Regions from separate parts of the Homo sapiens genome. Here all the other regions are linked to region 1. The links come from fine-mapping of genetic effects on gene expression. A gene starts in region 1. Each other region holds a variant in brackets. All regions are shown on one strand. Distances are from middle to middle. Region 1 holds the start of COLQ (collagen like tail subunit of asymmetric acetylcholinesterase). Region 2 has its middle 24 kb from the start of COLQ. Region 3 overlaps HACL1 (2-hydroxyacyl-CoA lyase 1). Region 4 overlaps COLQ (collagen like tail subunit of asymmetric acetylcholinesterase).

The links.
Region 2: its variant is fine-mapped to the expression of COLQ in coronary artery (GTEx, PIP 0.93).
Region 3: its variant is fine-mapped to the expression of COLQ in lymphoblastoid cells (GTEx, PIP 0.94).
Region 4: its variant is fine-mapped to the expression of COLQ in whole blood (TOPMed, PIP above 0.99). The same link has a PIP of 0.9 or more in blood mononuclear cells.

What each region holds. Positions count from the first base shown.
Region 1 is chr3:15,516,699-15,524,806 of GRCh38, forward strand. It overlaps COLQ (collagen like tail subunit of asymmetric acetylcholinesterase), which reads right to left and starts at 5,008. Exons shown (of 17, transcript NM_005677.4): 1 at 4,822-5,008. The coding sequence starts at 4,927.
Region 2 is chr3:15,541,719-15,549,826 of GRCh38, forward strand. No RefSeq gene overlaps it. Among named protein-coding and RNA genes, the nearest start is that of COLQ, 24 kb to the left of the region's middle. The variant G/A (reference allele first, on the strand shown) is at 4,257.
Region 3 is chr3:15,582,874-15,590,981 of GRCh38, forward strand. It overlaps HACL1 (2-hydroxyacyl-CoA lyase 1), which reads right to left. Exons shown (of 17, transcript NM_012260.4): 5 at 6,667-6,739; 6 at 3,652-3,729; 7 at 2,375-2,469; 8 at 4-116. Among named protein-coding and RNA genes, the nearest start is that of HACL1, 15 kb to the right of the region's middle. The variant G/A (reference allele first, on the strand shown) is at 4,281.
Region 4 is chr3:15,457,489-15,465,596 of GRCh38, forward strand. COLQ (collagen like tail subunit of asymmetric acetylcholinesterase) reads right to left here. Exons shown (of 17, transcript NM_005677.4): 13 at 698-837. Among named protein-coding and RNA genes, the nearest start is that of EAF1, 34 kb to the left of the region's middle. The variant G/C (reference allele first, on the strand shown) is at 3,865.

The DNA of each region.
Region 1 (8,108 bases):
TAGATCCTTAACCTCCATTAAAATGCAAGAACCATCAAAGCAGAGATAAATCAGTACCCTGGCAAGTCATGCACACTTTAATATAAAGCAATATTCAATCTTTTGCTAGAGCTTTGGGCATTGATATACTGAGGAAAAAGCAGGAGGGAATGGAAAATAAAGAATCCAGGCCAGGCGTGGTGGCTGTAATCCCAGCACTTTGGGAGGTCAAGGCCAGCGGATCACTTGAGGTCAGGAGTTCGAGACCAGCCTGGCCAACATGGCAAAACCCCATCTCTACTAAAAATACAAAAATTTGTCAGGCTTGGTGGCACGTGCCTGTACTCCTAGCTACTCAAGAGGCAGAGGTATGACAATCGCTTGAACCTGGAAGGCGGAGGGTTGCAGTGAGCCGAGATCGCACCACTGCACTCCAGCCTGGGCAACAGAGCGAGACCCTGTCTCGAAAAAACAAACAAAAAAGAATCCAGAGGAGAGTTTCCAGAGGATAGGAGGGTAGCCTACAGGACTTTAAAGGCCAATATCACTATTTATCCAAAACCATAAGGAGATTTGGTATATACTGGTGAAAGCCCTGGACTTAAAGAAGCAGGATTTCAGTCTCCAGCTCTCCCACATAACAGCTGCATGACCTTGGGCAAGTCACTTAACCTTTCTGAGCTGCCATTTCCTCATCTGAAAGGGGAAGTGGTGCTGCCCCCATTCAGGAGTGCTGCGAGAATTACACAAATTAAACTGTGTGGAAGGCCTGCCCTCCGGTAAATATCATTGTCTTTGTGTCTGTGCCTCCACATTCTGGAAATTGTACTACTACTGAGCTACCACTGTGGGTGGATACTGGAGCCAAGTCAATCCACAGACCCATAAGTGAGTCCAGCCAGGGCCAGCCAAACCCAAGCTAGATTAGCTGACCCTCAGTTTACCCACAAACACATGAACTTCAACAATAAATGGTTGTTGTTTTGATCTACCAAGTGTCACGGTGGTTTATTACCCACCAATGGTTAACGCAATACACCAAACGTGGGAATCTTGGCATTTTTAATAATTGCCATGTTCAATAGAAATCATTCTAATATATAAATGGCATTTATCTACCTTCTTAAGCAAGATAAAGTAGGCACAATCCAGTCATCACTGGTCCATTCATGTTCATCATAATGAAAACCAGTTAATGTACTGTAGTCAATGACGCCTTCAGGGGTTACAGACAGAGCAGAGGCTCTAGAGGTAGCTCTAGTCTACTATGTTTTGTTTGTTTTTTTAAACGAAGTTTCACTCTTGTTACCCAGGTTGGAGTGCAATGGCGCGATCTCAGCTCACTGCTACCTCCGCCTCCCAGGTTCAAGCAATTCTCCCGCCTCAGCCTCCTGAGTAGCTGGGATTACAGGCATGCACCACCACATCCAGATAAATTTGTATTTTTAGTAGAGACAGGGTTTTCTCCATGTTGGTCAGGCTGGTCTCGAACTCCTGACCTCAGGTGATCCACCCACCTCAGCCTCCCAAAGTGCTGGGATTACAGGCGTGAGCCACCGCGCCTGGCCTACTATTCTTTTTGAAATCTCAGGCCCATTTCCTAATTCTTTATTGTTTTTCTTGTAATCATTCTTATCATCCGTCATTGTGTCTAGCTTAAGCAGCAACTCCTCCCTCCCCAATTTAATATGCTATATATAATCACCAGCTTTCAAGTCACGGACTATCTATGTCTATTAGAGTGGTGCCCAAAGTAAGAGTTAATAGGCTTAGAATAAAGGCCTGAAATAGTTTTGTGTGTATCAAATATTATGTGCTTTAGCGATGGCATTTCTATCATCAGTTCTGGCCTCTGATGTTTTTTGCTCCTTCCTGGTTCTCCTCTGGGACCCAGCAGAGGAGGTTGCCAGGTAATGAACCTCTGATCCAGATAGCTGGTGCTGCACATGGCACTGCTGGAATAGTCTTTCTTGAAGACAGTGAAGGAGTGGATTATCTATGAAGGTAAGTACTGGCTTACAGGCCCATGAGAGCTCTTCCTCCATCACAACCCCTTTCCGGGGCATTTACCACACGCCACCTGTGTTTCAAAAGCAGGTGATCATGGAATCCCTCAGAGCAGAGGCCACATCCTACTTGTCTCCGTGTCCCTTGAAGCACACATTAGAGTGCCAGGCACACAGTAGGCACTCACTAAGTTATAATGCATAGAATGAAAAGATTTTCCTGGTTGCCCTTATTTTCTGTGTATACACAGCCTATCTTCAGAAGAATTAAGAGTCTATAAGCTTCTGAATATAGAATATTTTATATCAAACTGTTGGAAAATATTTCCAAAGGATTACAAGGAACAGCTTCCATTTTTTTAAAGCTTAAGTTTATTTCTGAACTGTGCTATCATAAAGCCATGGTGACTAAATTAGGGGGGCAAAGCCAAGTGACCACCGGAGAAAACATATCTTTGTGATACTGAGCTGGTTACCTTAGTGATTCCCGCTAGGTCTATTCCATTGTTTTCCCTAATGTCTAATGACCACATTCCCAGCCAGAAGTGCCTGTGGATGTGCGCACTGGTTGTTCTCCATCCCAACCCTCCCCTTGGCTCTCTGCCCTCAGTGTTCCAGTCCCTGACCTCCAGGCTCTGCCCTCTGGCTTCAAGTTGGGTTGGCCAATGAGAGGCGCTGCCAAAAGGTGCTTGGATGGGAGGAGAGAGAAGATGGTGTACTTCTCCTTCACTTTCTCCCTGCTTTAGGGCCTTCCATGACCAATGCTCTTGCTTAATGGCCCCTTCTCTAAGGCTCCAAATCTGCCTGGGATCCATTTTCCTATTTGCCCCTCTTGCCTTTTCAAGCACAGGGTGGTAAAGGCATATTGCAGTTGCTAATCTCTAGGTGCCTCAGCATTCCTTGTTGGTTCCCTTAACCCCGCCCACACCTCTCAAAGTGATCCCTTCATTCAGATCTTTTCATCTGAACCACCTGAGTTGCTTCTTTATCCTGCTGTTGCCCTGATTGGTACAGTCTGCAAAAAGCTTACCTAAGAGATATCTATGTTGTGCCAGGGTGCTCTCCAAGGCAAAGAGTTCAAAAGAAAACCAGAGGTTCTTTTCTCTCTAGTTTTCTGAACTCCTTAACCACTTTGGTGCTATTTAAATTAAGTAATACAAAATGATGGTAAACCCCAGTTTGCAGATGAGAAGCTTTTATTCATTCATTCATCAAATATTTATTGATTACTATGTGCCAGGCACTGTTCTGACCCTGGGAAAACAGTAAAGTACAAGAGAGACACATGCCCTGGCCACATGGTGCTTATAGTGTAAGGCCACTGTCTCTCAGAAGTCAGGGAGCTCATCAGAGGCAGGGCTAGAACCAGAAAACTGAGTTTCCTTAAGTCCTAACCTTCAGCAGATTCTCAAAGGAATCCATGACCCAAACATGATTAAGAACCACCAAATTAGGCCAAATTAACTCTCAAGCTTCTCCCTTGAACTGGGGAATGAATAATGACTACTCACTCCTAGAAGAAGCTTGATGCTCTTAACTTGAATTTGCAGGGGCATGTGGGCACACACCCACGGTGACACCACCACTCACCTTTCCTGCCCACCCTCCTGAATTCTCCACAAATCTGCCCCCACCTCCTTCTGTTTCTCACACTTTTATAATTAGCCTCACACCAGTCTCTGAGTCACTCCCTCATGGCCCACAAACGTTGGCTACACAACTTGCTGATGAGCTGTTTTTATCAATGGACAGCAGTTGGGAGCTGGATTCAGAGATGTGCCCTCTCTGAGAGCCTGGCATTTCTGGCCCTCCCTGTGTTTCCAGCAAAGGCAGCGATAGTGAAATTTCTGTCTCAGTTGAAGTATTTATGAGACTCATGTTGGAGGCATAACTAAAACTTTGCTGGGGAGAGTCAGGGGTCACTGAGGTGAATTGAGGGGGGCTGTGAGGGTCTGCCTGCCTCCTTCAAGCCCTCCGGAAACATTTGAGTTTCCTCAGAAAGGTTTAAATAGGCCATACTAGTAACCGAATACTTCCCCTGCTCTGGGTCAGACAAGACAAGGGCAACAGGCTGCTGACCTCAGAAAAGGTTGCAGGCTGGCAGACACAGCCCCTTCCCCAAATCTCCCAGCCTCATACCCGGCAGACACACTCAGCTCCAGACCTGGCTGTCACTGTGGAACCCCCTCCACTTCTCCCTGGAAAGCTCACTTCTCTCAGGACCTCCAGCTGCCTTGTCTGAGGCTGAAGGGAAGTCGCACCCAGGAAGACAGGTCTGGAGAAAGGGAAAACCTAGTCCTGAGGCTGCAACTGCCCCGCCGCTGTTCACCCCCCACCCCACCGGCCCCTGCCACCTGCATTTTCCCTTCGAGGGACTATTGTGGCCATGGATGCTATCTGGGTCTGGAAAGAGGTTTGTTTACTCCACAACAGCCCCTGTGAGGCAAGCCCCCTTCGAAGAGGTCAGAGATGTATTTATAGAAACATCTGAGACTCACTTCTCTATTACTTGCACACCTCTGTCTCTTTTAAGCTCTCCCAAATTCCTGACCAAGATGAAATCATGCAGCAAATGGGGAGAATAGGGGAGGCAGAAACCATTTTTCAAAGTGTCTCTGCTTTGAGCAGCCAGGTAGGAGCCGGTTGGAACAAGGACAGAAGGGGCTTCCGAGACAAGCTCGGGTGACAGGAAGCTGCTGGGGTGGCCGTCTTCCTTCCAACCTCCCTCCACCAACAGTTGAATGGCAAAAACATCAGGACACATTGCAAAACAATCTTCCTTCCTCCCCCTGTCCCCTGACAGATGGAAGAGAGGAAAGTTGTGGCCATCATTTACCTGCTGAGATTGGAAGAACGCTGTTGATGAAAGTCGGCTGAGACACGATAGAGAGGAAGAAAAGCTGAAGATAAATTCCCAAAGTCATTGGATTCAGGACAACCATGCTGGCCAGGGTCTGGCGAGGGTCAAGTTAGAAAGGAGGCTGCTGCGGAGCCTTGCTTATCTCTGCTTTTCTCTTCCTCACTGCTGTTTGCGTGCGCGTGTGTTTGTGTGTGTGTGTGTGCGTGTGTGTGTGTGTCTGTGTGTGTGTGTGTCTTTCCCTCTTTCTCTTTCCCTCTCCCTCCTCCTCACCCCCTCCCTCTCTCTCCCTCCCCCACCTCTCCTGTCTCCCATGCCTTTACCAAGAAAGAATGCCAACCATTTCCCATTAAACTGTCTCCATGCTACAGAGAGTTATATTTATCTCAAGCTCCATATCAAATGCCCACATTAAAATTAAGATGTCAAAATTTTCTTTTTTGGAGACTGAGGTAAGTGGCTAGTGAAGAGGTGATGAGAAGGCAGCCAAGTCTCAGATGTTCACTGGAGGCAGTCCTCAAGGGCAGAGAGATTCCTAATTGGTTATGTGCCACCATCTACCTCCTTGGAACTGGGCAGAAACAACTCTCCTGATTCAAACTGAATTTCATGGAGAAAAACCCCTCCACTGTCAGCCTGTGACATTTTTACCCATTGTGTAACAAATGTAAAGTTAACTTTTAATTTTTTTCTTTAATCATCCAATAAAAAGGAGGAAGGAAGTAGTTTATATTTCCAAACAGCTTTCTCTGTGAAAAAGTGTTTCTCTCTCCAAAAGCTGCAACCTTTTGATTCAATGCAAGGCAAAATAAATGAAAACAGTAAAAGTATAGAAAAGTGAATGATTTTTATCAAACTATATTCAGAAAAATAACATCACTAACTTAATCTTTGGCTAGACAAAATTATTCAAATAAAAATTATCACATTCTTAATACCTTTTATGAGTTTATAAAAGCCTGTTATAGAGATGATTAGATGACTAAAACAAAATAATAATTCACAGAGTTGTTCATTTTGCTTTAATTTACATATTACATGCCTCATAGGAGTTAACTCAGAAACAGTCTGCTAGTTACTGGATGCTGGGGTGGGCATCCTGCCCCTGTGCTCATTATGGGGAAGGTGGAGTTGGGTCAGGGCGTGGTATAAAGTGATATTTTACAGCTGTAGCACCACACTTGGGCTTGACTCTCAGCTCTGAGTGGCAGTGGACAAGCTCACCTCTCTAAGCCTCAGTTTTCTCATCCATACAATGGAGACAATGTTCCCTTTAAAGGTTTGTTGGAAAGTTAAGTGAGGTAATGGGGATGAATCCTACACGGATTAGAACTTGCACATAGGAACAGCACAAAGGAGACCCAAGGGAGCCATGGTAGCCTGGGTGCAAAGATGGCCTCCAAAAGTCCTCCCAACCCAGTGTGTGCATGACACTCTTCCCAGCAAAAAGCAGGGCTAGTTCCCCTCCCTTAAATCTGAGGTGGCTCTGTGACTTACTTTGACCAATAGAATGTGGCTAAAGGGACACTGTGCCATCTCCTGGCCTAGGCCTTAAAAGGCCTGGCAGCTCCTGCTTTTGCCTTTTCTTGAAAATCAGCTGCCACTTTAAAAAGTCTGGACTATTGAAGAGGCCACATGGAGGGGGAAGCAGCCAGCCTCCAGCTGTTCTGACTATCCCAGATGCAGCATCAACAGGCGAGTGAGGCCATTTTGGAACATCTAGCCCTGTCCTGGTCTCAGATGATGCCAGCCACAGGAGTGACCCCAAGTGAGACCCTCGAAAGAACTGCCCAGCCCAGATTACGAAGTCATGAGCAAATAAAACGGCTATTGTTTCAAACCAGTAAGTTTTAGGATGACTTGCTCATCAGCAATAGCTAACTGATACAGAGTTGATAAGGAAAGCTTTTGAAAGCATGAAAAATATACCTGAACTACATTCAAAATTTATAGGACAGATTAAAGAGAGGGTACCCCCATTTAGCTGCTCCCAAAATTTTTACAAGAAGGAGCTGTGATTGCTGGCCAAACTCAATCAGGACATTCTCAGGCTCACTCTTGTTAACTCCTGGAGCCCCAGCAGCCAGCTTCCAGTGGCTTGGAGAAGGTACAGTCTACCTGGGAGGAAGGTATCTTTTGAGTAACTTGGTGTCAGAATATGAATTTTTACTATCTAGCTCAGATTCCTCCTCTGCAAAGCCAGTATGACTTCTTCCTTCTCTCAGCACAAAGAATTCACCACTGACCATACCCTTGGAACAAATTCTGTCAATACGTCCTACCGGTGACACCTGCTGCTATTGTTTTTGAACACCACCTTGTGTTGCTATTTAGCTGGCATTAACATCCCTAAAGATAGGGGACTATCCCACAGCTCTATGTACTCTCAAGGCCCCCAGGACAGTCCTTGTCACCTAACAGATCCTCAACAATGTAAGTTACTTTGATCAAATCACACCACTGGGTAGGATGAAAAAAGAAGAACGTACAAAAGTAGCATAACTTTATGCTCCAGCTTTCTGCACAACTTGCATTTCCCCAGCACCCCTTGGAGCCTCTGCACATACAGCTGGGTGGCCTGCGCCTGATACAAGGGAGGGCTTTGGTGAGTATGGTGAGAGTGTGAGAGGGACTATGGATGGCCACCTTGAATTAGGACCCGCAGACAGAGAGGCTAAATTTATAATTCAAGTCACTGGAGAATGAGTCACTGCTGATCTAAAGTTACGACAGGAGCCTCTACCCTTTGAGGAGGCCCCAACACAGAGTTATTTATAAGGCCCCAATACTTATTAAACAATTTTTAGTAAATTTCCATTTCCTTAGGTATCTTATATTTTATGAACCTATTTCTTATAAGATTACCCTAACTGACCAAGACAGAAATTATCATCTTTCTTCAAATCCTCCTGGAAGGGCTCTGATGTTTCCAGAATCTAATAACATAGACTATTAGATTTGTCCAGAAGGAAACTATTTGAGATTTGAGAAAAGCTCACACCAATAAAGCCATTCAAAGTCAGAGTCTTCCCTCTCAGACCTTGTAGGCAGGACTGTACACTGGAAAACAATCTTTTGGCCCCATTAAACTTAAAATGCACATGCCGTCTGACCCAGAAGTTCTCAGAAATACTCATTCACTACCCAGTGGTTTAGGTGCAAGGGTGTGCATTGTTGCCTCAAGTTGGAAACAGCCTAACTGTCCATGAATGAAACATTGGTGGAATAAATCCTGGGACATCCATTCAAAATGTTATGCAGTGACT
Region 2 (8,108 bases), 25 kb after region 1:
AATCAGTCATTCTTGAAGAAGAACTCTCCCCTGATGGCAGGATGGTAATAAGGCCCCTGAAAATTAGATCGTCCCCAGAGAAGAAGAAAACAAGGGAGAGGAATGAGCCTAAATTAAAGACTTACTCAAAAGAGACTTGAGTTTTAACCTCTACTGATAGAAGTCAGAAGAGTAATGGCTGTGGGGGATGCATGGGTTGGCTGGAGGGGGCATGAGGGAGCCTTCTGGATTATTGGCAATGCCCTATACCTTGATCTGGGTGGTGGTTACATGGCCACATACATATGAAAAATTCACCGAGCTGTACACTTAAATACTAAGTGGAAATGGAGTTCAGGAGCTAATTTCTATTATAGAGTAATAAAGAAAAGTTCACCAATTCTGTGAAATGTACACCTGCCACAACATAAGTGAAAACAAAGAATGGCAGACACATGAAGTAAACAAATATTTATATAGAAAAAAAGTATTATTTATGAATCTAAACAGTGAGTGACCAAGATGCCAAACAGAAACATGATTAAGAACAGGGAACTTGAGAATATAAAATTATAACATTGCTGGAATACTCATTCTTGTAACTCCTATTTCAATGAGTTAAATTAGAAGTAGACTATACCCTTTTCAAGATCATCATCCCTGGAATTAGAGATGGAAGGAAGCTTTGAAATCCTCCTTCACTGGTTCCAAAACTGGGCTGCACACTGGAATCACCTGGAGAGCTTTAAAAAATACTGATGCCTGGGGCCCACTCTAGAGATTCTGATGTAATTGGTCTGAGGTGTGGCTTGGGAATCAGGATTTTTAAAAGCTCCCCAGGTGATTTCAATGTGCCGCCAGGGTTGAGAATTATGGGTCAATTTCAACCACTCTTCTCACAAATGAGAACACAGAGGCCCAGGACTGGCAAATGGTTTGCTAAATATCCATTAATTGGCTGCAGCCAATTTTCTCTGATGTGCTCTAATAGGAGGGAGCTGTGGTATGGACAATACCAAACAATGAATAATCTAAAAATAATTTATATTTGGTTCGGGAAAGCAGCACATGACTTCCTGGCTGCCGACTGGCCTGGCTAATTCAGTTGGGTCGAAATGAATGTGCTCTTTCCTGCACTGACACTGACAACCCAGCTCTGTGCTGAGATGTGGAAGGAAGGTGGCCAAATTAAACACCGGCTGCAGCCAGTTCTCCAGTGGGCAACAGACATGGTGTCAATGGCACATAGTAACAATATGGATGTAGGGACTTGTCTAACAGAGGATTCCACGATGGAGCAAAGCTAGCTTTCTCCTCATCCTATACTCTAAGAGGGAGGGGGACCAGAGGCATAAAGACGGAACGAAGGAAGAGGGGCTTATGTTTTTCAAGGAGCTATTTGGTGCCAGGTTTCATAATAAGCATTTCTATAAACAGCATATGGTCTTAGCTCTATAGAGTTAGGCATTCTGGAACCCACATTATAGAGATGAGGAAACTGAGGTTCAGAGAGGTTGTATAACCCAAAGCAGAGCCAGAATAGAAACTCCAGCTTACCACACTCAACACTTTCCGACATACCATCTGTCTGTCGAAGAGGGAGAGATGCAGATGGACTTGGGTCAGATCCTTAGATTGTAAGTGCTGCTAAGCAAACTTCACCTCCCGATTTTTCAGTTCTAACAGTCTAAAGGCAGCAACAAAGAGACCTCCAGAAAGTACCTGTGCAGCCATGAGAATCTGTCTCCAATCACGGGAGCATAACTGACCAAGAGCCCCAGCTGCCACTCTCTGAAATCTGTCACCCACATTTACGCTAAGGCCACATTTCCCAGGCATTGTGCTGCTCCTCTCCAATGTCCAGTAGAAATATGAAGGTGGCCCTGTTCCTGGGAGGCATGGGACTCCTCTGATAAAAGTCTTGCCAAATTCTCCTCAGATGGCACCCAGCCAGGATGCTTCTGCCCATCCTTCCTACCCTCTTTCCTCATTGAGGTCTGACCTGCATTGCAGTCTGATGGCTCTCAGCCTTTTCCAGCTCTTCTGTTTTCTCTCACAGAGGCATTTCCCTTAATAAAGTCCCTCATGTATTTAATCCTACCTTGGCATCTACTTTCCAGAGGACCTGGACAACAGAAATGCCCCTAGCTAATGGTGCCCCCAACTATACACACATCACAGTGGGGAAGGCGAGGAGAGAAAAGGTCATCTGCTGACTCATCAAGGGGAAGCTGGTCTGAAATTTTTTAATAAAATTGTGGGTACACAGGTGTATAAATTTATGGAGTACACAAGATATTTTGATACAGGCATACAATGCATAATAATCACATCAGTGTAAATAGGGTATCCATCACCACACATATTTATCCTTCTTTGTTGTTGTTGTGACAAACGATCCAATTATACTCTTTGGGTTATTGTAAAATGTACAATTGTTGACTACAGTCATCCTGTTGTGCTGTCAAATACTAGGTCTTATTCATTCTTTTTATTCTTCTGTACCCATTAACCATCCCCACTGCCCTCTCTCCTGACTACTGTTGCCAGCCTCTGGTAACCTCTCTATGTCCATGAGTTCGATTGTTTTAACTTTTAGCTCCCACCAATAAGTGAGAACATGTGAAGTTTGTCTTTCTGTGCCTGGCTTATTTCACTTAACATAATGACCTCCAATTCCATCCATGTTGCTGCAAATGAAAGGATCTCATTCTTTTTATGGCTGAATAGTACTCCATTGTGTATATGTACCACATTTTCTTTATCCATCCATCTGCTGATGGACACTTAGGTTGTTTCCAGAACTTGGCTACTGTGAACAGTGCTACAATAAACATGGGAGTGCAGATACTGCTTCAATATACTGATTTTTCTTTTGGGTATAAGCCTAGGAGTGGGTTGCTGGATCATATTGTAGCTCTATTTTTAGTGGGTTTTTTTTTTTTTTTTTTTTTTTTTTTTTGAGACATGGTCTTGCTCTGTCACCTAGGCTGGAGAGCAGTGGCACACTCTCGGCTCACCATAGCCTCTACCTCTTGGGCTCAAGCAATCCCCCATCCTTAGTCTCCCGAGTAGTTGGGACTATAGGCATATACAATCATGCCTGGCTAATTTTTTATTTTTGTATTTTTGTAGAGATGGGGCTTTGCCATATTTCCCAGGCTGGTCTAAACACCTGAGCTGAAGCGATCCACCCTCCTCAGCCTCCCAAAGTGCTGACATTACAGGTGTGAGCCACTGTGCCCGGCCCTCTATTTTCAGTTTTTTGAGGAACCTCCAAACTGCTCTCCATAGTGGTTGTACTAATTTATATTCCACCAACAGTGTACAAGAGTTCCCTTTTCTCCACATCCTCTCCAGCATTTGTTATTGCCTGTCTTTTGAATAAAAGCCATTTTAACTGGGGTGAGAAAGCATCTCATTGCAGTTTTCATATGCATTTCTCTGATGACCATATTTAGCACCTTTTCATATACCTGTTTCCCATTTGTATGACTTACTTTGAGAAATGTCTGTTCAGATCTCTTGCCCATTTTTTAATTGTATTAGATTTTTTCCATACAGAGCTGTTTGAGCTCCTTATATATTCTGATGAGTAGTTTGCAAATATTTTCTCCCAGTCTGTGGGTTGTCTCTTCACTTTGTTTCCTTTGCTGTGCAGAAGCTTTTTAACTTGATGTGACTCCATTTGTCTATTTTTGCTTTGGTTGCCTGTGCTTGTGGGGTATTACTTATGGTTCAATCTTGGTAGGTTGTATGTGTCTAGGAACTTATCCATTTCTTCTGGGTTTTCCAATTTCTTGTCATATAGTTGCTCCAATGATCCTTTGAATTTCTGTGATATCAGTTGTAATGTCTCCTTTTTCATCTCTGATTTATTTGGGTCTTCTCTTTTCCTTAATCTGGCGAAAGGATTTTATTTTTTAAAAAATTGTTCTGTTGAACTTTTGCATTGTTTTCTTTATTTCAATTACATTTATTTCTGCTCTGCTCTTTATTATTTCTTCTACTAATCTTAAGTTTGGTTTGCTCTTGCTTTGCTAAATCTTTAAGATATATTGTTAGGTTGTTTATTTGAAGTTTCTCTATTTTTTCTTTTTTTTTTTTTTTTGAGATGGAGTCTTGCTCTGTCACCCAGGCTAGAGTACAGTGGTGCAATACTGGCTCGCTGCATCCTCTGCCTCCTGGGTTCAAGCAATTCTCCTGCCTCAGCCTCCTGAGTAGCTGGGATTACAGGCATGTGCCACCACACCCAGCTTTTTTCTTTTGTACTTTTA[G/A]TAGAGACAGGGTTTCACCATGTTGGCCAGGCTGGTCTTGAACTCCTGACCTCAGGTGATCCACCCACCTCAGCCTCCCAGAATGCTGGGATTACAGGCGTGAGCCACTGCACCCAGCCAGTTTTTCTACTTTTTTGATGTAGGTACTTATAGCTATAAACTTCCCTCTTAGCACTGCTTTGCTGTATTCCATAGGTTTTGGTATGCTGTGTTTCCATTATCATGTGTTTCAATAATTTTTTCAGTTTCCTTCTTAATTTCCTCACTGACCCATTGGTTACTCAGACACATACTGTTTAATTTCCATGTGTTTGTATAGTTTCCAAAATTCCTCATTATCGATTTCCAGTTTTATTCCATTGAGATCAGGGAGGAGACTTGATATTATTTCAGTTTTTTAAAATGTTTTAAGACTTGTTTTGTGGCCTAACATATGGTCTATGCTTGAGAATAATCTATGTGCTGAGGAGAAGAATGTATATTCTGCAGCCATTGCATGAATTGTTCTATAAATATCTATTAGGTCCATCTGGTCTGCAGTGCAGATTAAGTCCAATGTTACTTTGTTTTCTGTCTGGATGATTTGTCCAATGCTGAAAGTGGGGTGTTGAAGTCTCCCACTATTATTATATTGGGGTCTATCTCTCTCTTTAACTCTATTAATGTTTGCTTTATATATCTGGGTGCTCCAGTATTGGATGCATATATAATTGTTATATCCTCTTCCTGAATTGACTCCTCTATAATTATATAATAATCTGGCCTCTTTTTACAGTTTTTGTCTTGAAGTCTATTTTGTCTGATACAGGTATAGCTACTCCTGCTCTTTTTTGATTTCCATTTGCATGGAGTATCTCTTTCCATCCCTTTCTTTTGTCTATGAGTGTCTTTATACGTGAAGTGTGTTTCTTGTAGGCAACAGATCATTGGGTCTTTTTTTTTCTTTATCCATTCAACCACTCTATGCTTTTTGATTGGAGCATTTAGTCCATTTACATTCAATGTTATTATTGATAAGTAATGACTTGTTTTCTGGTTGTTTTGTGGTCTTCTCTTCCTTCTTTCCTTCTGTCCTGTCTTCCTTTCTAGCCGAGGTGATTTTCTCTAGTGGTATGTTTTAATTTCTTCCTTTTTATTGTTTGTGTTATCAATCATATGTTTTTTGATTTGAGGTTACCATGAAGCTTGCAAATAATATCTTATAACCCATTTCTTTAAACTGATGACAACTTAACACTTGTATAAACAAGCAAAGAGAAAACTAATTAAAATGCTACACTTTTTACATCAGTATAGTGTGAGAAATAAAAATAAAAAATCTGTACACTTTAACTTCTTCCCTCTACTTTTTATTTTGTTTTTGTTTTAATTTATACCTTACTGAACTCTGTCTTGAACAGTTGTTGCAGTTATTGTTTTGTTTTGAGATAGGCTCTCACTTAACGCCCAGGCTGGCTGTAGCCTCGACCTCCAGGGTGGTGACTCCCACCTCAGCCTCCTGAGTAGCTGAAAGTGCAGGAACATGCCACTACACTCAACTAATTTTTTGTATTTTTTTGTAGTGACAGGGTTTCACTATGTTGCCCAGGCTGGTCTTGAACTCTTGAGCTCAAGCAACCTGCCTACCTTGGCCTCCCAAAGTGCTGGGATTACAGGCAAGAGCCACTGTGCCTGGCCATTTTTGACTTGTCCATCATTTAGTCTTTCTACTTAAGATATGAGTTTGCACACCACAATTACAGTGTTATAATATTTTGTGTTTTTCTGTGTGTTTACTATTAACAGTGAATTCTGCAGCTTCAGATAATTTCTTATTGCTCATTAAGGTCTTTTTCTTTCAGATTGAAGAATTCCCTTTAGCATTTCTTGTAGGACAGGTCTGGTGTTGATGAAACCCTTCAGCTTTTGTCTGGGAAAGTATTTCTTCTTCACAGTTGAAGGAAATTTTTGCTGGTTATATTATTCTACAGTAAAAGTTTTTTCCTTCAGCACTTGAAATGTGTCATGTCACTCTTTTTCCTGGCCTGTAAGGTTTCCACTGCAAAGTCTGCTGCGAGACGTACTGAAGCGTCATTGTATACTGTTTCTTTTCTCTTGCTTGTAGGCTGACTTCCTTATCCTTGACCTTTGGGAGTTTCATTATTAAATGCCTTGAGGTAGCCTTCTTTAGGTTAAATCTGCTTGGTGTTCTATAACCATCTTGTACTTGAATATTAATATCTTTCTCTAGGTTTGGGAAGCTGTTATTATCCTTTTGAATAAACTTTCTACCCTCATCTCTCTCTCTACCTACCTCCTCTTTAGGGCCAATAACTTTTTTTTTGAGACGGACTCTTGCTCTGTCACCCAGGTTGGAGTGCAGTGGCACAATCTTGGCTCACTGCAACCTCCACCTGCCGGGTTCAAGTGATTCTCCTGCCTCAGCCTCCTAAGTAGCTGGGACTACAGGCACGTGCCACCACACCTGGCCAATTTTTTTGTATTTTTTGTAGAGATGGGGTTTCACCGTGTTAGCCAGGATGGTCTCGATCTCCTGACCTCATCATCCACCCACCTCGGCCTCCCAAAGTGCTGGGATGACAGGCGTGAGCCACCATGCCCGGCCTTAAGGCCAATAACTCTTAGATTTGCCCTTTTGATGCTACTTTCTAGATCTTGTAGGCATGCTTCATTCTTTTCTTTCTTTCTTTTTTTTTTTTTTTTGTCTGTGACCATGTATTTTCAAGTAGCTTGTCTTCAAGCTCACTGATTCTTTCTTCTGCTTCATCAATTCTGCTGTTAAGAGACTGAAACATCCTTCGGCATGTCAACTGCATTTTTCAAATCCAGAATTTCTGCTTGATTCTACTTAATCGTTTCAATCTCTTTGTTAAATTTATCTGAAAAGATTCTGAATTCCTTCTGTGTTATTTTGAATTTCTTTGACTTTCCTCAAAACCGAGTTCCTTTTGAATTCGGTCTGAAAGTTCACATATTTCTGTCTCTTTGGGATTGGTCCCTAGTGCTTTAGTTAGTTTGGTGAGGTCATGTTTTCCTGGATGGTCTTGATGCTTGCAGATGTTCATCAGTGCATGCACATTGAAGAGTTAGGTATTGATATGGTTTGGCTGTGTCCCCACCCAAATCTCAACTTGAATTGTATCTCCCAGAATTCCCACGTGTTGTGGGAGGGACCCAGGGGGAGGTAATTGAATCATGGGGGCTGGTCTTTCCCATGCTATTCTCGTGATAGTAAGTCTCACGAGATCTGATGGGTTTATCAGGGGTTTCCGCTTTTGCTTTTTCCTCATTTTCTCCTGTTGCCACCATGTAAGAAGTGCTTTTTAACCTCCCACCATGATTCTGAGCCTCCCCAGCCATATGGAACTGTAAGTCCAATTAAACCTCTTTTTCTTCCCAGACTCGGGTATGTCTTTACAAGCAGCATGAAAATGAACTAATACAGTAACTTGGTACCAGTAGAGTGGGGCATTGCTGAAAAGATACCTGAATATGTGAAAGCAACTTTGGAACTGGCTAACAGGCAGAGATTGGAATAGTTTGAAGGGCTCAGAAGAAAACAGGAAAATGTGGGAAAGTTTGGAACTTCCTAGAGACTTGTCGAATAGCTTTATCCAAAATGCTGATGGTGATATGGACAATACAATTTAGGCTGAGGTGGTCTCAGATGGAGATGAGGAACTTTTTGGGAACTGGAGCAAAGATGACTCTTGTTATGTTTTAGCAAAGAGAGTGGCAACATTTTGCCCCTGCCCTAGAGATTTGTGGAACTTTGAATTTGAGAGAGATGATTTAGGGTATCTGGCAGAAGAAATTTCTAAGCAGCAAAGCATTCAAGAGGTTACTTGGGTG
Region 3 (8,108 bases), 66 kb after region 1:
TACCTTTCCCGATGATAAGAAGGGGTTGTTTGGCATTCCTAATAACAGAAGCCGCCGTGCACACAGCAGAGGTTTCTGCCATGCTAATAGGAGGTGACATGCAGCGTTCCATGTACCTGGAAAAAAAGAGCCCTATTAATTAAAAGAGGCCAACTATGATCTTTTTATTGTGAAAATTTCAAATATATAGAAAGGTAGAAAAAATAGTACAATAAATCTCCATACACCCCCATGTAGATCTAACAACTTAATATCATTTTACCACATTTGTTTCATATATACACACATAAACATGCATTTATTTTTCATGAACTATTTTAAAGTAAATAGGCATCAAGACACTTCACCCTTAAAAATTTCTCCATGCAGCTGTGAATAAGGACCTTCTCCTATATTCAACTATCACATCATTATCACATCTAGTAAATTAACAGTTATTCCCTGATATCATCTAATAACCAGTGAAATGGCCAATTCATTAACAGAAAATCTGAGTTAATGGCTTTGTACTGTAGTAGCAGCAGTAGCTGTCCTAACAGTAAAAACATAATAAAATCTAATATTTGCTATGTGCCATTTATTCTCATTTAACTGTCAAAACAATGAGGTTAGGTATTAACATCATCTCCATTTCACCACTGAGGAAAAAAAGACTCAGAGAAAGTAACTTGTCCAAGATCTCCAGATGGCACGTGGCAGAGACAGGACTGAACTAGTCATTCTGTCTCCAAAGTCCATGCTTTTAAACACCTTACCACATTTCTCTTTTTTTTTTTTCTTTTCTTTTTTTTTTTCTTTTGTGGAGACAGAGTCTTACTCTGTCACCCAGGCTTAAGTGCAGCGGTGCGAACTTGGCTCACTGCAACCTCCATCTCCCAAGTTCAAGCGATTCTCCTGCCTCAGCCTCCTGAGTAGCTGGGACTACAGGCACATGCCACCAAGCCTGGCTAATTTTTGTATTTTTCGTAGAGATGGGGTTTCACTATGTTGGCCAGGTTGGTCTCAAACTCCTACCTCAGGTGATCCACCCACCTCGGCCTCCCAAAGTGCTGAGATTACAGGTGTAAGCCACCGCACCCAGCCCCACTACAGTTCCACTCACTGGGTGTTAATATTTTAGTATCATAATATGCATTAGTAAAAGAAATATTCAAACTGTCACAGTTAAGTATTTCTGGACACCAAGTCCTGTGCTATTTCATTTATTCTAATTAATATAAATTATACTGTATAAAATTTAGACATATTGTCAAAATATTTAGACATATAATAAAAAAGGACAATCTGTATAAAATTTAGAAGAAGGCTTACAGAGTTAACTTACCTGAGCTTACCCTCCTCCCCTTAGTAGTATTTTGATTATCATGTTCAGGTATTAGGCAGAATAAACAAGTGTCTTTTTTATCTGACTCTCCGAAATAAAAAATCACTCCTGGCTGGGCACGGTGGCTCATGCCTGTAATCCCAGCACTTTGTGAGGCCGAGGTTGGTGGATCACAAGGTCAGGAGTTCGAGACCAGCCTGGCCAACATGATGGAACCCTGTCTCTACTAAAAATACAAAAATTAGCCAAGCATGGTGGCGGGCGCCTGTAATCCCAGCTACTTGGGAGGCTGAGGCAGGAGAATCGCTTGAACCCAGGAGGCAGAGGTTGCAGTGAGCTGAGATAGTGCCACTGCACTCCAGCCCGGGCAACAGGGAGAGACTCAGTCTCAAATTGAAAAAAAAATCACTCTTTGGTACACAGAGTATACAGTAAGACCCACTGACTCTCTGTAGTCACTAGAGAACCATTTGGTCCACAACAGCAGAAACGCACTAAACAGTACCCATGATGCTTTAACCCTAAGTACCTATCTCTATCAGGGGATGATTTAGATACCAGTGAAAAATGCTTTTTGTACTTCTTTTCACTTAGTGTTTATTTAAGAAATATGAGAATATGAGAAATCATAGAAACCTCTATACTGGAATATTTGTTAACCACAGAGAGAGACAGCTAGATGTTTTTTATCCTGAGTCCTAATACTTTTTAATAATCACCCAACCTCTTGGCTTACATTATAAAGATTCTCAAGGACCCATATTACATTAACGAGGGATGTATATTTATGGTTACTGGAGGAATATTTTCAACGAGGAGTTCAGGAAGTTCTAAGTATTTGGTTTAGTAATTAAATCCATAAATAACTACTAATATCATTTTAATTAAGAAAATTAACCCTTTGGCTAGGATTCAGTTTAATTACTAAATAATCAAGTTAAGACAAATGGAAATTAACTTATAAACTGCTGGGTAAATTCTTCTAAAAAGGTAGGCATTATGATAATACATGTACATTGAAGAAAGAATTCCAGCATAACTATTACTCACTTTATAGAATTCACATTCACCTGAAGGTTCACAAAATCTGCTGGTATGTCAACATAGCAAGCACCTGGACGACCATAGATACTGCTTCTCACTGCCTACGTTCATTACAAGTAGAAGAAAAGATTTGTAAAATCTCAGTCTTATCATATTCTACTCAAAGATAATTTAAAACTGGAAAATGAACACTTTTCATTTTTCTGGACATCCTTGTGGAGAAAAAAATAATTATGATGAAAATCGAAATGTCCTCTATTGACTACATTTTTAAAGATTTTTTGTTTAAAAGGGAGAGAGATAAGAAAGTATTCATTTAGGGCTTTAAAATTCATGTTCTATTACACTTTAGCTTGGGAAATTATTCACCCGGCTCTGCCTGCCAAGTTTTTGCACTGTAATATGTACTTTCATCTGCTTCCTAATCTTAGTAATCTGGCAGTGTTTTCAGAAACTGTGATGCTGTTACACGTATCAAATGGTTTCTGTAACTCCTGGTTTTGAAACAGCTAAAATGTAATTTCACGTATAAATGCTGATTATAATTTATAATACAGGTTGAGTATCTGTAATCCAAAAATCCAAAATCTTCCAAAATGTGAAACTTAGTGTGTGCCAAGAAGATGATACAGGTGGAAAATTCCATATCTGACCTCATGTGACAGCTCACAGTCAAAATGCAGGTGTCTAAACAGTTTATTCAGCATCCCCAAGGGAAAAATAATCATCAGACTATGTGTATAAGGTACATATGAAAAATAAATGAATTTCATATTTAGACTTGGGTCACATCCCCAAGATGTCTCATTATATATATGCAAATATTCTAAAATCTGAAAAAATCTGCAGTCAGAAACACTTCTGAAAAGCATTTCAGGTAAGGAATAATCAACCTGTATGCTGTATTAATTAACTAACGGAGGGTCTTAGAGGGTTTTGGTTTAATCCCAATTTTCAAAAATAATCTTTTGCAAAAGCACAAGAGAAAAGGTACTCAAGGGTTCATTATAAACCTTTCTCTTTACTTTTGTATAATTAAAAAGGTAATTTTAAAAACTAAAACACAGGAGAAACTTTTTCCAAAAATAACTTATTTTACCTCTCTATAATTAAATGTAATGACAGTGAACACTAAAATGTAAATAGCTTTCTAACAATGCCATTTTTAACTGCCTGGGTATGTTCCTAATTGTCACTCATTCTTTTGAGAATAAAAATAACAGTAAGTATGAGCAACTGAGAAAAATCAGTTGACTTGGAGAGCTTGTTATTAAATACTGTACCTTTTCAATAACAAAAGGAATAGCTTCTATGCTGCTTGGGCGGGCAGAGAACTTGGTATATAATCTACAAGCTTCAACCTACATGGAAAATGAAAATCACTTAAAATTCAGCTCACAATCATGTTACTCTCCTGAAAGAAGACAAAATGTTAAGTCATTAATTTCTTTTATGTTTAGAGGCAAGATGGAGAAAATATATTGCCTAGACTGTCCCTTAAAAGCCTATTCAAAGTACAAAGTTTTGCCTTGGTATGATTCAGGAAGCGTATCATACCAAAGATGCAAAATCTTTTGGCAAAGATGCAAAAGTCTGATAATACCCACCATCTAACACAACACAGGAAAATAGGCACTTCTATAAACTGCTGGTGAGACTATAAATGGGAAAGGAAGTTAAAATCTACAAAAAATTTAAATCAGCATATCTTTGGATCCAGCAATTTCACAGATAAGAATATAAAACTTCATCTGTTAGATTTTGTTATAATAATAATCTATTCTTACATTTCTGCCAGTGTTCCTTTTATATACTTTCTTGCTATGGTGTTTCGAATATATGAATTCAGTAGTGATAATTTTTCACTGTTTAATATATCTTGAGGCATTATATAGAAACTGTTTCTCTTGAT[G/A]TTTTAGTATGAAATCTATGAAAAGCTGATAGTCCCACAGGCATGACAAAATTAAGATCACCCTCCGATTTTCAGTCTATGTTCATGCCCTTTAGTTTTAAGGACTTCCACAAAAACCAGATACTTGGATTCTTTCTCTTCTGTTTTTAAATTTGATCTAATAAACTATTATTTTCCATTTCAGGAAAATGCCTCAGATCTATATATCTTGAGGCATTATATAGAAACTGTTTCTCTTGATGTTTTAGTATGAAATCTATGAAAAGCTGATAGTCCCACAGGCATGACAAAATTAAGATCACCCTCCGATTTTCAGTCTATGTTCATGCCCTTTAGTTTTAAGGACTTCCACAAAAACCAGATACTTGGATTCTTTCTCTTCTGTTTTTAAATTTGATCTAATAAACTATTATTTTCCATTTCAGGAAAAAAATATGTAGTGGACATTTATCCTGTTTTCTTTTTCACGTATATAGTTTCTGCAGTAACTTTAGATTTCCTTTTAATTAACTTAATCTGCTCTACTTATTTTCCAAACACATAAGCATCTTTTAAATAACTGTTATCGTCTACTATTAACTAAATAAAACTTCGATTCCCTTCTAAGAGTATAAAAATATAACTTTTGCATTAACTTATACTAGAGTTCAGTATTTTAGTTTATCATATATGAAATTTTATTTTTTGAAGTTCTCAGTAATGATTTCTGATTTACAAATAGACTTTGTCTAATGATTTTATTTATGTATTTATTTTTGAGATGGAGTTTCACTCTTGTCACCCAGACTGGAGTACAGTGGTACGATCTCGGCTCACTGTAACCTCTGCCTCCTGGGTTCAAGTGATTCTCCTGCCTCAGCCTCCCAAGTAGCGAGGATTACGGGCACCCACCACCAAGCCCAGCTAATTTTTGTATTTTTAGTAGAGACAGAGTTTCACCATGTTGGCCAGGCTGGTCTCAAACTCCTGACCTCAGGTGATCTACACGCTTGGGGCTCCCAAAGTGCTGTGATTACAGGGGTGAGCCACCATGCCCGGCTGTCTAATGATTTTAACTTTGTCCTGTAAATGCTCAAATATATTTATATCTTAAGTGTCAATCATTCACTTTCAGCTATTTGTTTCCAACAACTGTTTTTTCTAAAGACACGGTATCTTGGATGGGTGTGGTGGCTCACGCCTGTAATCCCAGTACTTTGGGAGGCCAAGGTGGTGGATCACTTGAGGTCAGGAGTTCAAGACCAGCCTGGGCACCATGGCAAAACACTGTCTCTGCAAAAAGTACAAAAATTATCTGGGCATGGTGGCGTGTGCCTATAGTCCCAGCCACTTAGGAGGCTGAGGTGGGAGGATGGCTTAAGCCTAGGAGGTAAAGGCTGCAGTGAGCCAAGACTGCGCCACTGCACTGCAGATTGGGCAACACAGCCATATCCTGTCTCAAAAAAGAAAAAAAAAAGAAAGAAAGAAAGACAGAGATAAGACCTGAATATGTTGTACAGACATATGTTTGGTCTCAAACATTTGGGCTCCAGCAATTCTCCCTCCTCAGCCTAGTAGCTGAGTAGCTAGGAATACAGTTACGAACCACGTGTCCAGCTTTATTCTTAAAACTGTAGCATTTTGTTGACATATTCTTTCAAGTTTCTTTTAATTTTGACATGCTTTCTTTCCTCCTTCTAAAATAAAAATATACTTGTCCAGAGTCTACTGATAATCATTTTGAGTAAGTTTTTTCCTCTTATTTCCCTAAAGTCTGGGAGGCATAGTCCAAAATCATTTTTATTCCTACATCTTCTTGACTCCTTTAAGAGCCTATTTTCAGAGCTTAAAATCCTGTCACAAAGGTGTATTTCTTGAAAGCTTGTTTCTAAGCAGGGCCTAAGCTCACCCTTAATATCCACCCTGAAGTTGTCTTATAGTAGCTCAAGATAATTACCTTTAAGTTACTTCAGGTACTTCTAATTTATTTATTTTATTTTGCAAACAGGAGGCTTTTTTATATCTTCTCTCTACCTCTTAATGGTGTGTATGTATTGTGTTACTAAAATCTTAAGAGTTGCAGGCCAAGTGCGGTGGCTCATGCTTGTAATCCCAGCACTTTGGAAAGCTGAGGCAGGTGGATCGCTTGAGCTCAAGAGTTCAAGACCAGCCTGGGCAACATGGTGAAACCTCGTCTCTACAAAAAACTCAAAAATTAGCCAGGCATGGTGGTGTGAACCTGTAGTCCCAGCTGCTTGGGAGGCTGAGGTGGGAAGATTGCTTGAGGTCAGGAGGTCAAGACTGCAGTGAGCTGAGATGGCACCACTGCACTGCAGCCTCAACAACAAAGCAAGATCCTGTTTCAAAAATTAAAAATAAAAAAAACCAAAATCTTAAAGTTGGATACCTGAGGAAACTCCTGGAAAGCTCCCATTGTTTCTTGGTTTCTTTCAGAGGAACCACCAATCACAAGCAAGGGCCTGAAACAATCATTTTTTTAACAAGATAATTACAAATTAGATCATCATGTAAAACACTAAACACAGTGTCTAATTCACAACAAATAATAAATGTTAAAGGGAGAGAATATTATATTTTTTTCTTAGAAACTGTAGATTAAGGCTGGGTGAGGTGGCTCACCCCTTGTAATCCAGCACTTTGGGAGGCCAAGGTGGGTGGATCACTTGAAATCAGGAGTTCAAGACCAGCATGGCCAACATGGTGAAACCCCAGCTCTACAAAAAATACAAAAATTAGCCAGGCGTGCTGGTGGGCGCCTGTAATCCCAGCTACTTGGGAGGCTGAGGTAGAAGAATTGCTTGAACCTGGGAAGCAGAGGTTACAGTGAGCCGAGATTGTGCCACTGCACCCCAGCCTGGGCAACAGAGCAAGACTCTGTCTCAAAAAAAAAGAAAGAAATTGTAGATTAAAAAATATCTAAGAAGCAACCTGATATGAGAGAACTTTCCTTAATATCAGAAAAAGACAAAATGTATAGTAAATGTTTTCCTTCCCTTCTTCCCCTTCCCCTTTTGGATGCTGACGCTAAGCTTCCAGGTATATTGACATAAAATAAATTTTTATGCCTTTCTTATTCTTGGGATAAGGGGAAGAAAAATTTTACACTTTCCTAAGTGAATCTATTTAGAAATTGCAAAATAAGTGACATTCCTCAGCAATGAAATTCTTATCCTTCAATGTGGAAAAAAAAAAGATATGGGAAACCTTAAGGTACTTAAAAAATATAACACCTTAAAGTAGATAAAGAAGAGAAAGATCAAAAGGAAAGTAAAGAAGAAACTATAAGAAACACAGGGCAAGAAAGAAAACAATGTCCTTTCCACTAGAAAGATTAAATATGTTCCAAATTGATTAGAACCTAACCCCCCTCAACCTGATCTCACTGGTAAAGTGCCAGAGACGGAGTTAAGGGCAAGATCAGAGAATAAGTACTAAATAGTTTATATATAAAGCAAACTAAATGAATATAAGAATTTCAAATATCTTCCTACCTATGCAAAACAAGGTGAAAAATTAGCCACATTTTACACACTGAGCTTGGATCTTTAAAAAAATAATTCTTCACTTAAAGTAAATAGAACTACACATACGTTCACACATACACACACATATTAGGAACTCTAAAATGTTAAAAGTGTTTATGGCAGCTGGGTGCGGTGGCTCATGCCTGTAATCCCAGCACTTTGGGAAGCCAAGGCAGGTGGATCACCTGAGGTCAGGAGTTTGAGACCAGCCTGGCCAGCATGGTGAAACCTCTTCTCTACTAAAAATACAAAAATTAGCCGGGCGTGGTGGCAGGGGCCTGTAATCCCAGCTACTTGGGAGGCT
Region 4 (8,108 bases), 59 kb before region 1:
GGGTACACAGGGGTTCATTACACTATTTGTTCTGCTTTTATATGTATTTGAAATTTTCCCTAATAAAAAGTTTAAAATGTTATTTATAGAGTGTGGAAACATGGCAGGATTTCAACTAAGATAACAAAGTATAACTTTTTTTGAGACGGAGTCTCGCTCTGTTGCCCAGGCTGGAGTGCAGTGGTGCTATCTCAGCTCACTGCAATCTCCGCCTCCTGGGTTCAAGCGATTCTCCCACCTCAGCCTCCCAAGTAGCTGAGACAACAGGCGTGCACCACCGCGCCCGGCTAATTTTTTAAATATATTTTTTAGTAGAGATGGGGTTTCACTGTATCGGCCAGGCTGATCTCGAACTCCTGACCTTATAATCCACCCACCTTGGCCTCCCAAAGTGCTGGGATTACAGGCATAAGCCACCATGCCCGGCCAAAAGTACATTTTTATACAATATAATCTCAACCATATAAAAGTTAGATTTTAATAAGACAAAGAAAATACCCCAAAATGGACTCACAATCAAATGGACAATTTGGTTTTCCTCTTGATTTTCTCATATTTTCCAATTTCCTATAATGAGGGTGTACTCAGAGTCGTGAAAAAAAGTTAGTTTTACTGAAAGGATTTTACAAAGCCCCATAAGGATCAGGTGAGAGGTCCTCACGGATAACCACCCCAGACTTCTCCCAGAAAGCCTTACCACAGGAACTCGCGGGGAACTGGGCCCATACACAGATTCCCCGTAGGAAGGGTTATTCACATTCATAGTGGGTCCACAAAGACATCTTCCTGGAGGCCCGGGAAATCCTCTTTCCCCTTTGGGTCCCATTATAAGTTGTCCTAGGAAGCAACAGACTGCTGTGTTACTAGAGCCAAGGAAGAGAAGACCAAACAACCAGGGAGATGTGAGCGACCTTTGCAACAGAAAAAAGGTTAAAGTCCACAGCATTTCAGGGTATGCCTGAGGGAGAGGTTCAAAGAGATGCTTTTGATCCAAGACATGGAGGAGCTAAGGTAAGAAAAATAGCTGGTAGGCGATAGTTTCCCCCTCCTTCCTGCCTTGAAGACAGGCAAGATGTCTGGTGTTGCAGCAGCCGTGTTGCAACCAGGAAGTCACAAGCATGAGAAGATAAGCCAACATGCAGGAAAGACGAAAGGCTCATGGGGCCTGGGGCCCTGACAGTGACAGTCAGAGGCTGAATCAAAGCCAGCTACTGCCTGCCTCTGGATTTCTTTATTGGAGAAAAACAATGTCTTATTTGTTTAGACCATTATTAACAGAGGGCTTCTTGCCGACAAACACATTATTGACTGTTAACTTTTATTGTTTTAAAAAACTTTTGTTTTTCTTATATATAGAATTTTTTTTTTTTTTTGAGATGGAGTCTTGCTCTGTTGCCCAGGCTGGAGTGCAGTGGCACGATCTTGGCTCACTACAACCTTTGCCTCCCAGGTTCAAGTGAGTCTCCTGCCTCAGCCTCCTGTGTAGCTGGGATTACGGGTGTGTGCCACCACACCAGGCTAATTTTTGTATTTTTAGTAGAGACGGGGTTTTGCCATGTTGGCCAGGCTGGTCTCGATCTCCTGACCTCAAGTAATCCGCCCACCTCAGCCTCCCAAAGTGCTGGGATTACAGGCGTGAGCCACCATACCCAGCCAATGTAGGATCTTTACAGAGGAATTTCTGGATGTGGGTTTCTTTCATTTCTTCTGGAAGAAAATAGAACATTAGTATATGCTCTGCCCATTTACCCTCCCCTGGTGCTGAAGAAGTGAGGACATGTCTTGAAAAGATATGATCAGAAAGTGTACTCCCTAGCAATGTGGAAGAACTGTGAGGGTAGTACCTTGGTTTTTAAAGGCTCTGATACCCAGGATACACCTCAGACCAATTCCATCAAGACTTCTGAAAACTGAACTGAACCTAGGCAGCATCCACACTTTTATTTATTTATTAAAAAAAATTTTTTTACCACTTTAGCATAAGGCATCCTTTTTTTTTTTTTTTTTGGAGACGGAGCCTCACTCTGTCGCCCAGGGTGAAGTGCAGTGGTGTAATCTCAGCTCACTGCAACCTCCGCCTCTCAGGTTCAAGTGATTCTCCTGCCTCAACCTCCTGAGTAGCTGGGACTACAGGCACGTGCCATCAGGTTTGGCTAATTTTTGTGTTTTTAGTAGAGACAGGGTTTCACTCTGTTGGCCAGGCTGGTCTCGAACTCCTGACCTCAAGTGATCCATCTCCCTTGGCCTCCCAAAGTGCTGGGATTACAGGTGTGAGCTGCCGCGCCTGGTCAGGCACCCATATTTTATTATTATTATTATTATTATACTTTAAGTTTTAGGGTACATGTGCACAATGTGCAGGTTAGTTACATATGTATACATGTGCTAGGCATCCATATTTTTAAAAGCTCTCAAGATGATTCCAATTTGCCCCAAGGTTGAGAACTGGGCCATTCCCCTGCCAGATCATCCTCCCTTCATCCTCCATCCCTCCCCAGCTGCCTCTCAACTCCCTTCTGATCTGGGTTCAAACATCACTTCTTGAAGGAAGACTTTTTGAATCCTCAGACTCTGTCATGTATACCTGGGATACAATTTCATGGTTTCCTATGCCTTTCTTCACAGCACTTCTCTTTGTGATTCTATATATTGTGAGATTATTCCATCAAGGTTGATCTCCAGTAGAATGTCGCTCCACAAGGACAGGGCTAGTGCCTGTTTTCATCCACCAGGGCTTACACAAAGTAGGGGCATGGAAAGTGTTTGATGATCGAATGAATGAATGCCGACTAATTGGAGAGAAAAAGTCTTCAGAAGAGGGTAAAAGTCACATTCTGGCTGGCAGAAAAGCACCAGAACAAAAGCCATCTAACAGGAAGTGAGGAAAGAGAAAAAAAGATGGGGACTGAGAAGAGAAATAGGTAAGGATCCCTTCTTCTGGGAAAATAGCGAGGGGTGGGTTTGGAGGCCAGCCAGTCATTGGTGTCAGGCAGTATGACATCTGGGGCAGCCAGGGGCTGGGAACACAGTTCACAGATCCAGAAGGGCAGGAAATAAAATGACCCCAGGGGAGAGATCTGGCCAGGACCCCAGGGAAAACACTGCAGTCGGAGGAGACTGAACTTTCCTGAGCGAGTTGACAGGTATTCGTACAATCAGAATGCTGACAGCATGAGGGGAAGGGCACTGTGCCAATATCTTATCCTAAGTTATGGTTGTTTGTTCTAACAAGAAATACAAATATAATTCTGTAGGAAGAGCTCCAGTCTGTGTTCTGATATTTTCAGAAGAGCCCAGAGAGACAGGGAATCCACCAGGCTAGGAATATTCTGGGTAATTAAGCACTTGGGGAAATTGAAGTGGAAAAGCTCTGTGACCAAGAATATGAGGGTGGCATTGGAACAGCCTTCCAGAAGGCTCTGTGACCCCAACAACTCCTCCAGAACCATGGCCTGAGAGACAGTCAGGAGTTTGTCCCATTAGCTGCTGATGAATGGTGAGGCTGAGATTTGAATTCATGTTTTACTTAACACTATGCTGTTCAAAAGACAAATGTCCAAGAATACTGATGCTCTCAGGAAGCTGGCAATTCCCAGGTACCACGTTGATTCACTTATACTCTGTCTGGGTACAGGAAGGACTCAGCCAAATTTGTAATTTGATTATTGCAAATTACATCCTAAAGGCATTTTGCCTTTATTCCCCCCCCGACCTCTTAGCCCCTCTTACCCTCTAACTCAGATAAGTACAAAGCTCTCACCCTTTCCACCTCCCCCAGCACCATCTGGTCCCACAGAGCTGGGCACCAGAAACCGAGGTCACCTCCCAACAGGATGTGGCAGGGAGCCTGCTGCCACCACTGCA[G/C]TTTCCCTGCAGCTTCCTCCCAGTTGCTGCAGGGCATCTGTTACCCCTGCCTGTTTTCTGCCAGGCTATACTAAAGGACTCAGCAACCTGAACTTCCCCACCCTGACCTCTGGGAGATCATGTCTCAGCTGGGTTTCATCGCCACCCCCTGCAGCCAGAGGACCTGGCTCTCCATCTTTTCCCAGGCAGGCTCCCGCTTCCATTGGCTGCCTCAGTGGGAAAGGATCAGGAAAGGGGAATCTAGGAGAGGGCAGAGGAACCAGCACAACAACCTCTAGGGCCGCCTGGCTGACACTCACCCATTCTGGACCAGGGTGGCCCCCAGTCACTGCTGTGACCTTGCAGGCATCACTTCTCTTTGAGGTTCAAGATTCTTTTCTCTAAGGGGAGGGTAGGACTAGACCAGGGGAGTTTTAACCTGTGGTCTACAGAGGCCAAGGCTATCTCACGATGGCGCTGGGACAGGGGTTCTGGAACCCTGGGAAACAGGGTGCAAAACCTTGGATGTAGGTATATACAGTTTTTTCCCCCCCGAGAATGGGTTTGGGACTTTCATCAGACTGTCAAAGGTAGTGTCAGGAACCAATTTGGGGGGCCTAGTCCAACTCTGGATGATTATCCAACTGGTCCCAGGCACAGGGATAACTTATTTATTTATTTATTTATTTATTTATTTATTTATTTATTTATTTTTGAGATGGAGTCTTACTCTGTCGCCCAGGCGGGAGTGCAGTAGCGAGATCTCGGCTCACTGTAACCTCCGCCTCCCGGGTTCAAGTGATTCTCCTGTCTCAGCCTCCTGAGTAGCTGGGATTACAGGTGCCCGCTACCATGCCCGGCTAATTTTTGTATTTTTAGTAGAGATGGGGGTTTCACCATGTTGGCCAGGCTGGTCTCAAACTTCTGACCTCAAGTGATCCGTCCACCTCAGCCTCCCCAAGTGCTAGGATTACAGGCGTAAGCCACCGCGCCCGGCTGAATATCTCTTTTTAACTCCTTCCTTGCCCTCTCTCCCCACCCCTCCAATATTTTCCAAAGAGCAGGATTATTTATTGCCCCATCTTCTCTTTACCTTCTTCAGCCCGCTCACTCAGGAAGCCTCCTCAGAAAGGAAGTGGCTCAAAGGACGGAATGGGGGGCGGGGGCATCAATCCAAAGAGATGGTCCCACCCTGCTTGGCTCCTAAGGAGATGAACTGTGAACCCACAGAACCCCTGCCTGGGAGCCCCTGCAGGAAGCAGCCCTGTCCACCCACATACCAGGTGCCACTGGGGATGTGAAGCTGACTCAGCCGCCTACCTCGCCCTCAAGGATCTAGTGGGAAGATGAAACACATCTGCAGAAACGTTACCAATGGAGAGGCCATAACAGAGAGGCAATGACCAGGGCTCAGGGGAGGGTGATCCATCCTGTTAGGGGCCAAGGAAGGCCTTACTGAAAAGAGAGCTTCAAAGGAACAGAGAATTTTGTTGGATGGACAGAAGGTGAGAGGAGTGCCATGTAAGGTCATGTGGACCCAGAGAGACCATAGGAATAGCTCCAGCTCCACAGACGGCAAGGTGTCCTCTGAAGGGTAGAGGGCAGGGCGTGATTGGGCAGAGGCTGGGGTAGTCAAGGGAGAGGGAGGTGGGCATACTGGGTGGAAGAGAGGGAGCTGGAAGGCCAGGGAGAAAAAGTATGACTCTGCGGGGCCTGCTAAGAGGACAGGATTGCAATACACCGAAGACAGACAAGACAAGAGAAACAGCAGGCACCAAGAAGCTGCTGACAGCTCCAGCCTAGCCCTTCTCATCCATCCCCTAGCCCCAGGAGGGAACCAGACAAGTCAGGTGAGGGCTGGCCTTTACAAAGAGATAAACACAGTGAGACCATTAAGATCCCAGTCCGCTAAGGATCTCCTACACATCCCACATCCACCAATCCCATTGCCCCTGGACTACTCCTCAGTTTTTTTTGGTTTTGGTTTTGTTTTTTTTTGTTGTTTTTGTTGTTTTTTGTTTTTTGTTTTTTTTGAGATGGAGTCTTGCTCTGTCACCCAGGCTGGAGTGCAGTGACTCGATCTTGGCTTACTGCAAGCTCCGCCTCCCGGGTTCATGCCATTCTCCTGCCTCAGCCTCCCATGTAGCTGGGACTACAGGCGCCCGCCACTACGCCCGGCTAATTTTTTGTATTTTTAGTAGAGATGGGGTTTCACTGTGTTAGCCAGGATGGTCTCGATCTCCTGACCTCATGATCTGCCCACCTCGGCCTTCCAAAGTGCTGGGATTACAGGTGTGAGCCACCGCGCCTGGCCTACTCCTCAGTTTTGTGAGCCCCTAGGTACCCCAGGGGCCAAGAGAGTCCCTTCTGAAGGCACAACTCAGGCCAAGCTCTCAGTCTCTGCGGTTGGTAGCTCATAGTTATGGGGCTCCAGGGGGACATCATGCCTTCCAGAACCAAGGAGGAAGAGGACTAGTTGAAAGGACCCCCATTCAGATCATCCAGCCAATTCCAGAAATGAATTATGGAGTGTGGGCACATGGCCTGGGCTGCATCTCAAATCTGATTCCCCTAACAACATGGAAACAGGCGCAGCAAACATAAGTTATTACCCATACTAATCAGTGTTTGTTCTCCCAGTATTTCCTTCCTCCTCTCCCTATTTCAAGGAGGTAGCAAGAGTTTGTGCTTTCTTGCCCTTGCTAAAAGCAGGTACTATTGGAAACAAACTTTTCTTTCTGCCTTCTGTTCTCTGAAGGACAAAGCTCCTAATTGGGGTGCTGGTATATGAGGAGTATGAGGAAGGAGGGGTCAGGGATGGAAGAGGAGAGACCTCCCTAGACATGGACAGGAGAGGGACCCCTTGTATCCTGAGAAAGAGACAGGTCTCAGAAAGAATGGTTGTGGGGTGCTCCTTGGAAAGTTGAACTGTGGGGACCAGGACTCCCAGCCTTGAAAATGTTCTGATACCCACGTATGGCATGAGAACAGCAGCCACCAGGTATCTGTGGACCACAGGGACTTGGACAACAAGTCTATTTCTATTTCTACTCTATTTCAGAGGTGAATGGAGTAGACCAAAGGTTGGAGGGACCTTCCCTGACATTTTTCTGCCATAATTCACCAGGATCTTTGCCCAACCTATTTGTGGTTGTTGGAGGAGTAGTGAAAATCCTAATAATGCCTGAATTAATTTATTTGGCATCCTAGTAGGTTGGACTCTCAGAGCCAGATTTAACTTAGTTTAAAGGATCTAACAAAATATGACATTTCTTGCCCATCCCATGATGTGGTTGCAAATATAGTTCCATAAACACAGGAGGAGGGGGAATACACTGTGGAATTGTAAATGTCTTCATTTTCTTAAGAAAAAAGTTGGAATAAAAATTGTTTGGATTCCTTTTGTATAACTGAAGACAGAAAATGTTGCAGTCAACAAATGATCTTCTTGATACTGTCTTTATACAGTTGATGTGCTGTGAAAGCCCCTACCATGAGCTGACAAGGGAACGAAATAAAGGGCTTAGCTAATAAAATTGAATGAGGTAAAAGAGGAAGCAGCAGCTGGGTGTGGTGGCTCACGCCTGTATTCCCAGCACTTTGGGAGGCCGAGGTGGGCGGATCACGAGGTCCGGAGTTCCAGACCAGCCTGAACAAAATGGTGAAACCCCATCTCTACTAAAAATACAAGAATTAGCCAGGCGTGGTGGAAGGCACCTGTAATCCCATCTACTCAGGAGGCTGAGGCAGGGGAATCACTTGAACCCGGGAGGTGGAGGTTGCAGTGAGCCAAGATCGCACCACTGCACTCCAACCTGGGCGACAGAGCAAGGCTCCGTCTTGAAAACAACATACAAGGAAGCAGTGTATCTATGCCCTTCTCAATAACAGACTTTATATTTTGATTTATTTATTTATTTATTTATTTATTTATTTATTTATTTATTTATTTTGAGATGGAGTCTCGCTCTGTCACCCAGGCTGGAGTGCAGTTGCGCGATCTCGACTCACTGCAAGCTCCGCCTCCCAGGTTCATGCCGTTCTCCTGCCTCAGCCTCCCAAGTAGCTGGGACTATAGGCGCCCGCCACCACGCCCGGCTAATTTTTTGTATTTTTAGTAGAGATGGGGTTTCACCGTGTTAGCCAGGATGGTCTCAATCTCCTGATCTCGTGATCTGCCCACCTCGGCCTCCCAAAGTGCTGGGATTACAGGCGTGACCCACCGCGCCCAGCCAACTTTTTATTTTTTTATTTTATTTTAGTAA